2 separate regions of the Homo sapiens genome follow, and region 2 is linked to region 1. Evidence: fine-mapped expression QTL. A gene starts in region 1. The other region holds a variant in brackets. All regions are shown on one strand. Distances are between the middles of the regions.

The links. PIP is the estimated chance that this variant, and not a neighbour inherited with it, causes the effect. A credible set is the group of variants that fine-mapping cannot tell apart.
Region 2: its variant is the best candidate, but not a certain one, in a credible set for the expression of SUPT16H in skeletal muscle (GTEx, PIP 0.72).

Annotation. Positions count from the first base shown.
Region 1 is chr14:21,381,761-21,387,136 of GRCh38, forward strand. SUPT16H (SPT16 homolog, facilitates chromatin remodeling subunit) reads right to left here and starts at 2,259. Exons shown (of 26, transcript NM_007192.4): 1 at 2,102-2,259. The coding sequence starts at 2,167. CHD8 (chromodomain helicase DNA binding protein 8) reads right to left here. Exons shown (of 38, transcript NM_001170629.2): 38 at 3,439-4,416. The coding sequence ends at 3,853. It overlaps LOC107984643 (a long non-coding RNA gene), which reads left to right and starts at 2,513. Exons shown (of 2, transcript XR_001750627.2): 1 at 2,513-2,953.
Region 2 is chr14:21,350,620-21,355,924 of GRCh38, forward strand. It overlaps RPGRIP1 (RPGR interacting protein 1), which reads left to right. Exons shown (of 25, transcript NM_020366.4): 25 at 485-682. The coding sequence ends at 597. It overlaps SUPT16H (SPT16 homolog, facilitates chromatin remodeling subunit), which reads right to left. Exons shown (of 26, transcript NM_007192.4): 23 at 3,792-3,921; 24 at 3,084-3,213; 25 at 2,869-2,946; 26 at 857-2,199. The coding sequence ends at 2,054. Among named protein-coding and RNA genes, the nearest start is that of SUPT16H, 31 kb to the right of the region's middle. RefSeq lists an enhancer at 1,365-2,564. The variant A/C (reference allele first, on the strand shown) is at 1,891.

The DNA of each region.
Region 1 (5,376 bases):
CACCATGCCTGGTTAATTTATTTGCCTTTTTTTTTTTTTTGTAGAGACGGGGGTCTCATCATCTTGCCCAGGCTGGTCTTTAACTCCTGGCCTCATGTGCTGGGTACAGGCATGAGTCACGGTGCCCAGCCAGGTTTGGAATTTTTACCATTAACTTCAACTTATTCTATTTCAATCCCAGTTTTCTTATTAAAAAAAGGAAAAGGTGTAAAAGAGAAAAGTTATACAACACACCTATATATCCCACTATCTTTCTGCTATATCCAGGAGGATAAGCGACTAGATTTAACCCAGAAAACTACTATCTCTGATTAAGTGTATCAGAATGAAAGCACTGTAGGGTGAAAAGACTGCATACACAAAGAACTTCTACAGGTGGGTTCTGGACACATTAACACAAAAGCAGAAAGTCTTATTCAAGTAAGTTTTTCATAATAGCCACAGGTTTTGTTAACTGGTACATTTTTACATAGATTTGGCTCATAACTTTACACCATCAGTGTCTTATCAATATCTAACATTCTCCCAAGATGATGTCATTAAGGTAGTAAGAGGGCCAAGATAAACTTTAAAGATTTTTGAGATACAAAAAAAAATGGTGGGTGGGAAATAACTTTCATGGATTTAAAGACTATCAGTTTTATTAGGTTTGCCAACCTGTCTTCAGGCCACAGTTAATTTGTCATGTAGAGGAAGTGAGAGCTATAGATTAGTTTTCATGAATGGTATAGAGAGAATGAAATTATTTGATGAATCTGAATCACTGGGACTAGAAACAATTTTCATACCAAAGGTTCACAGTTTCAGGGTTTATGGGTACAAGAGAGGGCTTCGGATTTTTAGTACTTACTGATCATTAGAAAGTATCAAGGTTTTAAAATGTTTTTCTAACATCGATTATGTTTGAATAATATGACACTGAGAGAAGCTGCAAAAAATCATTTGGTAGAAATTAATCAAAAAATTAAAAAAAATAAAATGTTCAGTATTCATCTAGCATTTAGTTCTTATTTTTCCTTTTCATAAAATGCAAGAGAATCAATTTTATTTTCAATTATCTAATGTATTTAGCCCCAAAAGATGAAACATGCACAGACAGCTTTAATATGAATGGCAAGGAAACGACCAATTTTAATGGCTTGGTTTTAGTAGATGACCAGTTTGAAAGATAATTTACAATGCTGAAATGAGAGCTGATCATTTTTCTCAAAACGTTTTTCAGGTTAAAAAAAAATCTTTATTAGCTGTATCTTCCCTTGATGACAGGGTTCAGGGGCAAGACTTAAGCTAGCCAACTCAGACTGCATCACAGAATGCAACCAAATGTTTGCTCAATTAGTAAGTTAACATCATAAAAATAAGTTTTAACTGTGGACGTTTTTAGAGCAGCAAAACTGCCGAATCTTTAAAAAACTGGGAACTGCCACAGCTCTTTTAATGAACACGTGCCCCGGATACGCTACCAAGGAACTAATAAGGTTTTAGGCATCGTTTTGTTTTGTTTTGTTATTACTAATGCCTGCAGGCTTTCAGCGTTAGGTCCCTCTCTGTAACCCACAGCAGGGCCTAGAACATGAGGCGGTTGCGCGTGAGCAGTATTTCTTTTTTTAACTCCAGCAAAAGCCCCGCAAACGATAAACGCTAAAAGCCCGATTGACATCCTCCTTGCCCTTCCATCTCTCCTTTACGAAGACGGTTATAATCCTGGCGGGACCAGGGGTGGAATATTGTGGTTCTGGAGGGACAGAGCGAGTGCGTGAGAACACGGCAGGGGAGGGCAGCAAGACGTGACCACGGAGTAGGAGGGAAGGATGTTGCCTCTTCTAGGGCGGGAAGAGACTGCGAGAGGTGCTGCTATGCATGACCAAGGCTGGCACGCGGGGAAGATGGTGATGGCCGCAGGACAGGGTGAATGCGGGGGATTCCCTGTTAAGGGGCAGCGTTCGTGGCCGCCTCCGGTGAATGATTCGGGAGCAACGAAAAGGGTGAGGCACAGAACCCGGGAATTCCTGACCGAAAGAGAAAAAAGGGCGCCGAGAAACAGGGTTATTATGGGATGGCTAAGGGGGCTCCCTAGGAAAAATTACAGGATCTTCCTCACCCGCCAATTGCTGTACAGTCTCTTCACTCGCCGATAATAAGCGTCTTTGTCCAGAGTCACAGCCATAGCCCCGGACGCCGCTTCTCCTCGGGTTCCGAGAATCACGCGAGGTCCCGGCTCAGCCACCCGCTCTCGGCCCAGGAATCCCGCACTCTCCCAATGACCCGGAAGTATCGACCTCAAAGATGCCCTTTCCGCTTCCGGGTCCCAACAGCGTTAGGTTTTTTTTTTGTTTGTTTGTTTGTTTTGTTTTTTTCCAACCCTCTTTCGGATGGACGGGGGAAAGAGAGAAAGAAAAACGAGGGAAAATCAACAAAATGTGCGATGCAAAGAGTCGATTTTCGCGGGGTTTGTCAACTTCGCCACTGCCGCACGCGAATCGACGTCGTCACGTGACGGTCTGCCTCCGCCCTTATTAACTCTCAGCCCAGCGGCGGTTTCCAGGACCTCAGACTTTTTGCCGAGGCGGCAGTCCCTAGACGAAGCGAAGGAGGCGGCGCCTGCCCCGCCCACAAGAGCTGCCGCGCGCGGGTGTTATAGCTCCACCCCATCTGCAAAGGAAGGGGGAGCGGAAAGAGCGGGATCTAGCGTGGGATAAAAGTGGGACTACTACAGTGTAACTGGGCATGCGCCCCTCCTAGAAATGATGGGAATGCAAAAGCCCTTGACTGCTCCAGGACTCGAGGGATCCTCGGTGCCAGGATGCTGGGTCAAGCGCTCCGCCGGGACAGAGGACTCATACCAGGGAAATGGAGCCCAGCCTCGTGATAAACTACGACCCAAGCTGGGGGAGGAACCTAGTTTTCGAAAGGAAAATAATATGCGCAAGCTTTAACTGAGCAGTGGGATGGTGTAAGTCAGAGGAAACAGATGACTTGAGGGGCTCTACAAACTTTTAGTTCCTTCCCACAACCCCACCCCCTGAGCCCAAGTCGCGGCAGCATCCTTCCAGTCGGCCAGTCCCCTTGCTGCAGTTCATGAAAACTGGCACTATTCTATGGCTTCCCCCAAATAACCGTTACTTCAGTTAATTAGAAACAAAACATAAATGGTTCCTGATGACATTCTTGCTCCCTGTCTCTTCTAAAAACTTGGAGTTTGAATCCAGAAGTTTGCCTACCTACCATTTACCTTAAATAATTCCCTTGCCTTTAGCCAGCTGGACAGTCTACATTTGTATATACCCTTTAGAGGAGTACAGATGACTTGTCTGCTGTAAGGCAATTTAGTATAAACAGTATTGAACTTAAGGAAAGTGGTGCTGAAATTACCCACCATTAACAACTCAAAATCAATACACTGGGTTTGAGCAAACATAGAACAAAGGAAGAGTGGAAAAGGATTAACTTAAATTTATTAATGCCAAGGGGAAAGAAGGTAACAGTTCCTGACCCTCCAGCTGTATCCACAGTTCGGCCAGGAACAGGCTCTGCCAGAGGCTAGGGCCAGCGCTACATAGTCTGTGGTTAATGGAGGTGACTAGGGAGGGGTGAGCACACCAGCTGCTCTAGTCTCCTTTCCTTCCCCAGAAATGAGGAAGTGGTCATGTATTATTTTAGGAGTTCCCCTGCCCACCCAATCCTCTCATAATTGGGAGCAATCAGGTACATTTTTTTTTTTTTTTCCTTTTCACCTCCTGGAGTCCTGGACTTCCCCACATCTCCCCTGCCCCTCCCACGTTTCCATAGTCCAAGGGCCAGAGTAAATGAAAATACAGCAGCCGCCCAAGCAATGGGGCCCATGCTGGGGCTTCAGTCATCAGCATCTTCACTGGAGTCTGAGTTAGCTGGCATCATAGGATCATCAATGAGTGAGAAGTCCCTTTCTGAGCTATCATAGCCCTGAGATAAGTCATCATCATCTTCTTCATCCTCATCGTCATCCTCCTCAGGTTGCAGTGGTGGCAACCGCAAGGTAGTACCAGAGGCGGTAGTCACTGGTGAAGAGGGGTAGCCAGGGGCTCTCAAGCCTGGATGGTGATGGTGGTGATGGTGGGGGTGGGGGTGGTGGTGGTGGTGATGAAGCATGGTGCTGGAGTCTACATGAGGGGATGATGGTGCACCACCCATCACAAATGGCATAAAAGGCAAAGATGCAGAAGTGGCACTGCTGTGACCCAAAGATGACACAGACTGTAGGCCACTACTGCTGTGTTGGAACGTGTTATGCAGAGATAGAGACCCAGTGCTTCCACCCTGCATGAGGGCCATCATCTTAGAAAGGTCTGGTCGCATCCTACGGGCCCGCTTCTTGCTGCTCTCTGGTGCAATAGGCCCTGGCAAAACCCGGTTGAACACCGTTTCAGTGTGATGACCCTAGGAGGAGGGAATAGAAGATAATAAAAAGAAAGAAAGGGGAAAAAAGAAAAGAAACCAAAGCCAACAGAGTCCTAGCTTACAATGCTTTTTTACTGAATGTACCTTAGAAGAGGCAAAACAAGCACAGCGATACTAGGCTTGATTGGTGGTAATGGGAAGGAGGAAATGCTGGACTTAGCTGGTTGAAACATTCTGATACTAAAGTTAAGATCAATGATTTTGTACCGAAACTCATATTAACCAGTTTTTGCTTCTTTTCCCCATGACTATATTGTATCTTTACTTTAGTCAACCATTTCACAAATGCTTACCTTTGTTAAGAAGGGGTCTGGGTAAGACAATGAATTAGTAAATGCACATAAAAAAAATCACTTGTGACCGGGCGCGGTGGCTCACGCCTGTAATCCCAGCACTTTGGGAGGCCGAGGCGGGGGAATCACAAGGTCAGGAGATCGAGACCATCCTGGCTAACACGGTGAAACCCGGTCTCTACTAAAAATGCAAAAAATTAGCTGGGCAAGGTGGCGGGCGCCTGTAGTCCCACAGCTACTCGGGAGGCTGAGGCAGGAGAATGGTGTGAACCCGGGAGGCAGAGCTTGCAGTGAGCCGAGATCGCGCCACTGCACTCCAGCCTGAGCGACAGCGAGACTCCGTCTCAAAAAAAAAAAAAAAATCACTCGTGTCTCCTGATGGCAAGTTGTTCACTTGTTCTTACTATGTGAATTGACATTTACAATAATATCCTCTATTAGCACATCAAAGCAGGGTAAATTCAAGACAGATCAGATAAAGATTTCTACATGTCTAGAACACCAAAAAACTGTCAGAAACTCCTCACTAAATTTAATAAAATAATTTTTGTTCCACATTGATAAAAAACTTACATATCTGAATTTTAAATGGCTTCTTCTAGATGTTCTGACTAAAAATTCTGATTAAGTTCATTGAAGATAGAAG
Region 2 (5,305 bases), 31 kb before region 1:
TATAAAACGGGAATAACAGCAGTCTCTATCTTACTGAGTTGTGAAGATTAAGGAAGCACTTAAATAAGGGATTAAGGGGCTTAGGGTAGTGCCTGGCATAAGGCAAGTGACGTTATCTTTGTGGGCTATTTTCCAACTCACTCCTATCCCCATTCCTAAACATGCTATGTTCTTCCTGACCTCCATGCCATTTGTATGTGCACAGGGAAAATCCACTTAAGACTTTTCTGGTGATTTCTCCAGAAATCCTTTCCAATTTGTCCATTCTGGTGCAGATGCCTCGTTATGTCCCCAAAGCAACTTGTGCTTCCATTTATTATATAGCACCTATACACTATACCATTTTCCTTTCTCCTTCACTAGATTGAGTCCTCTTATGAAATGGGTAATTTCATTCATTTAGCATCCCCAGTACCTAACCTGACAAATACCAAGTATCAAAGTGTTCAACTGAGTGATGCTGTTTTTTTCCCTTTCCCAACAGTTGTTAGCCCTGAAGATCTGGCTACCCCAATAGGAAGGCTGAAGGTTTCCCTTCAAGCAGCTGCTGTCCTCCATGCTATTTACAAGGAGATGACTGAAGATTTGTTTTCATGAAGGAACAAGTGCTATTCCAATCTAAAAGTCTCTGAGGGAACCATAGTAAAAAGTCTCTTATAAAGTTAGCTTGCTATAACATGAATTTGGTTTACTGTGATGTCTAGTGTCTCTCAATCTAATGATGAAAGTTTAGAATGATGAAAGTTTCATTTGTAAAACTAGCTAGCTAAAGGCATTTTTCTCCAGTACCTTAGCACTTTACCAGGCAGGAAGCAGGCTTGCTTTCAAGAACTGAAAATGAACGGTCACAGGTGAATTTACAAAAACAAACAACAAAAAAAACCCAGTTTATTCATCTTTTAGTTCTTCCAAAATTGAAAATATCAAGTCCTACTGCTAAGGAGAAAAAACAAACAAACATAAAATCCGGGACCCCTCCCCCCTTCTTCTCTTAAAGTCACAGAGCACGGAAGGAACTGCAGTGGGACAGGTGGGTGCAGAGAACCAGAAGGGGAGGATGGCAAGATAAACTCCCCAAATACTTGAAAAGCTGTTCAACAGAAACTGTGATAAATACAGGACAATGCAAGACAAAGTTAAAATAAGGAGCAGCAGTGCCGAGAGGCTGTGTTGTAGATATGGCCTCCCTTCCTCTTCTCTTTTCTCATCAGGGTATTCTAGGCCCAAGGCATGACTTGTCCCTTCCAGATATAAATGTTGACTCCTTTGAGCCTTCCTCTACATTTCACTAGAAGCGGTACATGAGGCACAACCTGATATATCTTCCTTAGATATATGAGAAAAAAAAGAAGACAGTGGCAATTTTGCCTTCTATCATTGTACCATGTGTGCATTGTATGGAGAAAATAACCGAGCCAGGGAGTATCACTGCTTCTTATGTCTTCCAAGGCAGCAGATATACCTCAGAATCTGCACGAGGCAGGAAAGCAGGAAAACTCAGACGAAGGCACCAGCCCAATCTGCCTCACTGGCTCAAGCTGTATGGTTTATCACAACCATTAGCAAATTTCCGAGAACCTTGAGTATTGCAAAGATAAAACTTAGAGATGTGCGGAAGGTCATGGCAGTAGGGTAGGTTGGAGGATTGAATGTGCTGGTCAAGAACCATGATACGGGTAATTAAGGGTCACCTTGTACCACTGTCTTGGAAATACAGCTTTGAGACACCAAATAAGATGTCAGAAGCCATCAATGTCTTGGCAGAAGGTGACAGGAAGAGAGAAGAATGAAACAATATTTATTAACAGCGGGAGCCTCCTCCTGTCTTCAAGAACACCTCCTCCCTTGCCATCTGAATGGGGCCATTGGCACGTGTCCTGGTGGGCCTGG[A/C]ATTCCCCGAGTAGATTGGTCCACACAAATGGCCCCCTAAACCCATAAACACAAATGGCAAAACTTCAAATGAAAACGAAAGGAAAAATACAGTTTCTATGTCATGTAAAATTTTCAGGGGTTGGCTGGAGGAAGAATGGAGCTCAGGGCCAAAGTTCAGAAGTTACTTCCTCTTTTTCTTGGGGGGTGCAGAGCTGTGTCTGGAACCACGGTTAGAGCCACGGCCCGAACTGTGCACAGATGCCTTCCTCTTCCGGCTCATACTTCGACTTTGTTCTTCTTCTTCCTCGTAACGACTTTCTCGGTCCGCTAAATAGAAGAGGCATTATTAGTTAGCAATAGGTAAGCTTTAGGTACCTAATATTACTGGATAGCATGAGATAGTACAGAGAATACACTTTGGAATCAGACCCAAGTTTTAATATTGGGCAAGTACTTTCTGAACCTTGGTTTATTTACAAAAGGGAGAATTATTTAAGGGTTAAATAAGGTAACCTATGAAAACTACCTATTCCCAATGCTTGGAACACAGCAGTTAATATTTATTTCCTTTTAAGCTTTAAAACGTTTGTTTGGGGTTTGGCTTCAGAGTAACTAGATTAGCATTATAAAGACATGCCTAACCTGGAAGAAGCCTAGAAAATTAAAGTATTATAGGATTTAGGTTTGGAAACTGAGTAGGCTAATTCTTGAGTATTACATGAATATGTGGCTATCATGGCTATAGGAAAGATGGGGGCTTGCGCAGATGAAAACAGCATCCAGTTTGGCAGAGCACTGCCCACTGGAGAGTATGGACACATTCCACACCTCATTTTCTCCTTCAGTCAATGAAGTTGTATCTGTGGCTCCAAAGCACTTTTATAGTGTTCTTTTGTTACTTTCATTACGCCATCAATACTAACACCTCAAAATATTGAAATGTGTTAGAAATTTGTGCGTAGACAAATGAATAAAAAACAACACATTTTTAAAAACCTTTTCGGGCTTCTTCCTCCAGTTCATCCCAATCCTTTCCACTCTCTTCTTCACTACCCAATGACTCCTTAGAATAGTCTGGAAGAAAATTAATTAAGCGTTAGTCATCATGCGGGAACAGAATGGAACGACAGAGTTCTTAGTCTAAAAAAAGTAGTTTTCAGAAATGACATTAGATTAGGAAGCCAGGACGAACTTTGCTCTGTAAGACTAACCTGACTCTTCTGCTTCTGATGAATAATCTTCATCACTGTCCTCCTCTTCCTCTTCATAGTCATCTTCTGAAGGATTAAAAGTCTCATCTTCAATTTCAGACTCTGAATCCCCTTCTTCAGCATCACTCCCCTGGTGAGTTAGAGCATAATACTGATTTTTTTTTGACATTTACCTTATTAACTTAATGAATTAATTCAGCCCACATAGTATACCAGTATTTACATGAAGAAAACAAGAGCAAAATAATCTGAGGGATCAAGAGATAAAATGACTTGTTTAAAATTAGTGGTCAGGTGCAATTATTATTTTACTATTATTATGTATTATTACATTTCTGAAAAATTCACGTTAGCCTTCCTCACCCAGGGAAATTAACAACAGAAAGACTTTCTGTATTTACGTATCACACAAACGTTAAGTGGATCATTTTTTAAAAAATAATTTTTGCAAAATGCCCTGAAGGATTTTTCCCTAAATGCTAAGAAACTCATTGAGGAAAAGTTTTTGTAATTTCCAAGAAATCTTGTCAGGAGTTAGTTACCACTGCCCAATCAATTTATCAATTTGAAGAAACAATAATATCAAGTGGTGTTTAGAGCTTCTCCCAGATGGCCTAGTCCCTTATGTACTACTCATATTCCATTCTAACTGACCAAATGATAGCGGGCAACACTGTGTACCAGAAAAGAAACCCCACACTCACGCACCTCACCCTCAGGCTCCAGGAAAGACCAGCCACCTTGTTCGAAGAAGCCCTCAGGGTCATCAACAATGGTCTTCATGATTTTAGTCCAGTTGAGGGACTGTACTCCTTCTGTGTATTTCAGGTCGCAGGAACTAAGAGAAATGACATGACAAAGTCAAATCAATCTTCTGTATTTTCCATATATTCTTTCTTCTTTTTTTGAGACAGAGTCTTGCTCTGTTGCCCAGGCTGGAGTGCAGTGGCACAATCTTCGCTCACTGCAACCTCTGCCTCCTAGGTTCAAGTGATTCTCCTGCCTCAGCCTCCCGAGTATCTGGGATTACAGGCGCATGCCACCATGCCTGGCTAATTTTTATATTTTTAGTAGAGACAGGGTTTTGCCATGTTGGTCAGGCTGGTCTAGAACTCCTGACTTCAGGTGAATAACCTGCCTCAGCCTCCCAAAGTGCTGGGATTACAGGTGTGAGCCACCGCGCCCTGCCTGGGAGCAGATATTCTTTGCACTATGCCACCAGATCATGTCCCAATGGCTGCTATTTGATCTCCTAGAGCACTAGCCCTCACAACAGACCAACATTCCAACTGAAACAAGCTTTCTCCTTCACCTGAGTCTGAGCTCATCCTCTCCCATTTTCTTCCTTAAACACCAATTTCCCTCTTCTTCACTTAGTCTTCTCTCCTATTCACCCATGCTTTTCCCTCTCTGTCACTGATTCCATTCTTATTTCTAAGTAGTCTTAACTCATAACCACTTCTGCGATTCTGTTTTTCACTATTGTAGTTAAGAAATAGGGACAATTTTCAGCCGGGTGCGGTGGCTCACGCCTGTAATCCCAGCACTTTGGGAGGCCAAGGCAGGCGGATCACGAGGTCAGGAGATCGAGACCATCTTGGCTAACACGGTGAAACCCCGTCCTACTAAAAATACAAAAAATTAGCCAGGCATGGTAGCACGCGCCTGTAGTCCCAGCTACTTGGGAGGCTGAAGCAGGAGAATCGCTTGAACCTGGGAGGTGGAGGTTGCAGTGAGCCGAGATCGTGCCACTGCACTCCAGCCTGGGCAACAGAGTGAGACTCTGTCTCAAAAAAATATATAATAATAATAAAAAAAAAAAAAAAAAAAAAAAGAAAGAAACAGGGACAATTTTCAATGGCCCTAGCCTTTCTTCTTCAACCTTTCACTGCTTTCCTATGTGTTGTTTATTTGATGCAAAATCTGTATGAAGGTAGGAACAAATTTTTTTTCCCAGTACCTAAAGTGCCCTGTATTTAGACAATGCTCAAATGACTTTCTCTTTCTCACTTCTGTTGAGGAGGGCTGAATCAGTTAAGAGTGGGTAAGAAGAAAAAAATCAAAGAAATGACAATAGTAAGGATAAAAACAAACAACCATAAAATCTGCCTGAGAACCACTGGCATAAATCCACTTTAGACAATATACACGGCAACTTCTGCTTCCAGCCATGATGGAGTAACAATGACTAGATTTACTTTCCCACCTTAAACAACTACAAA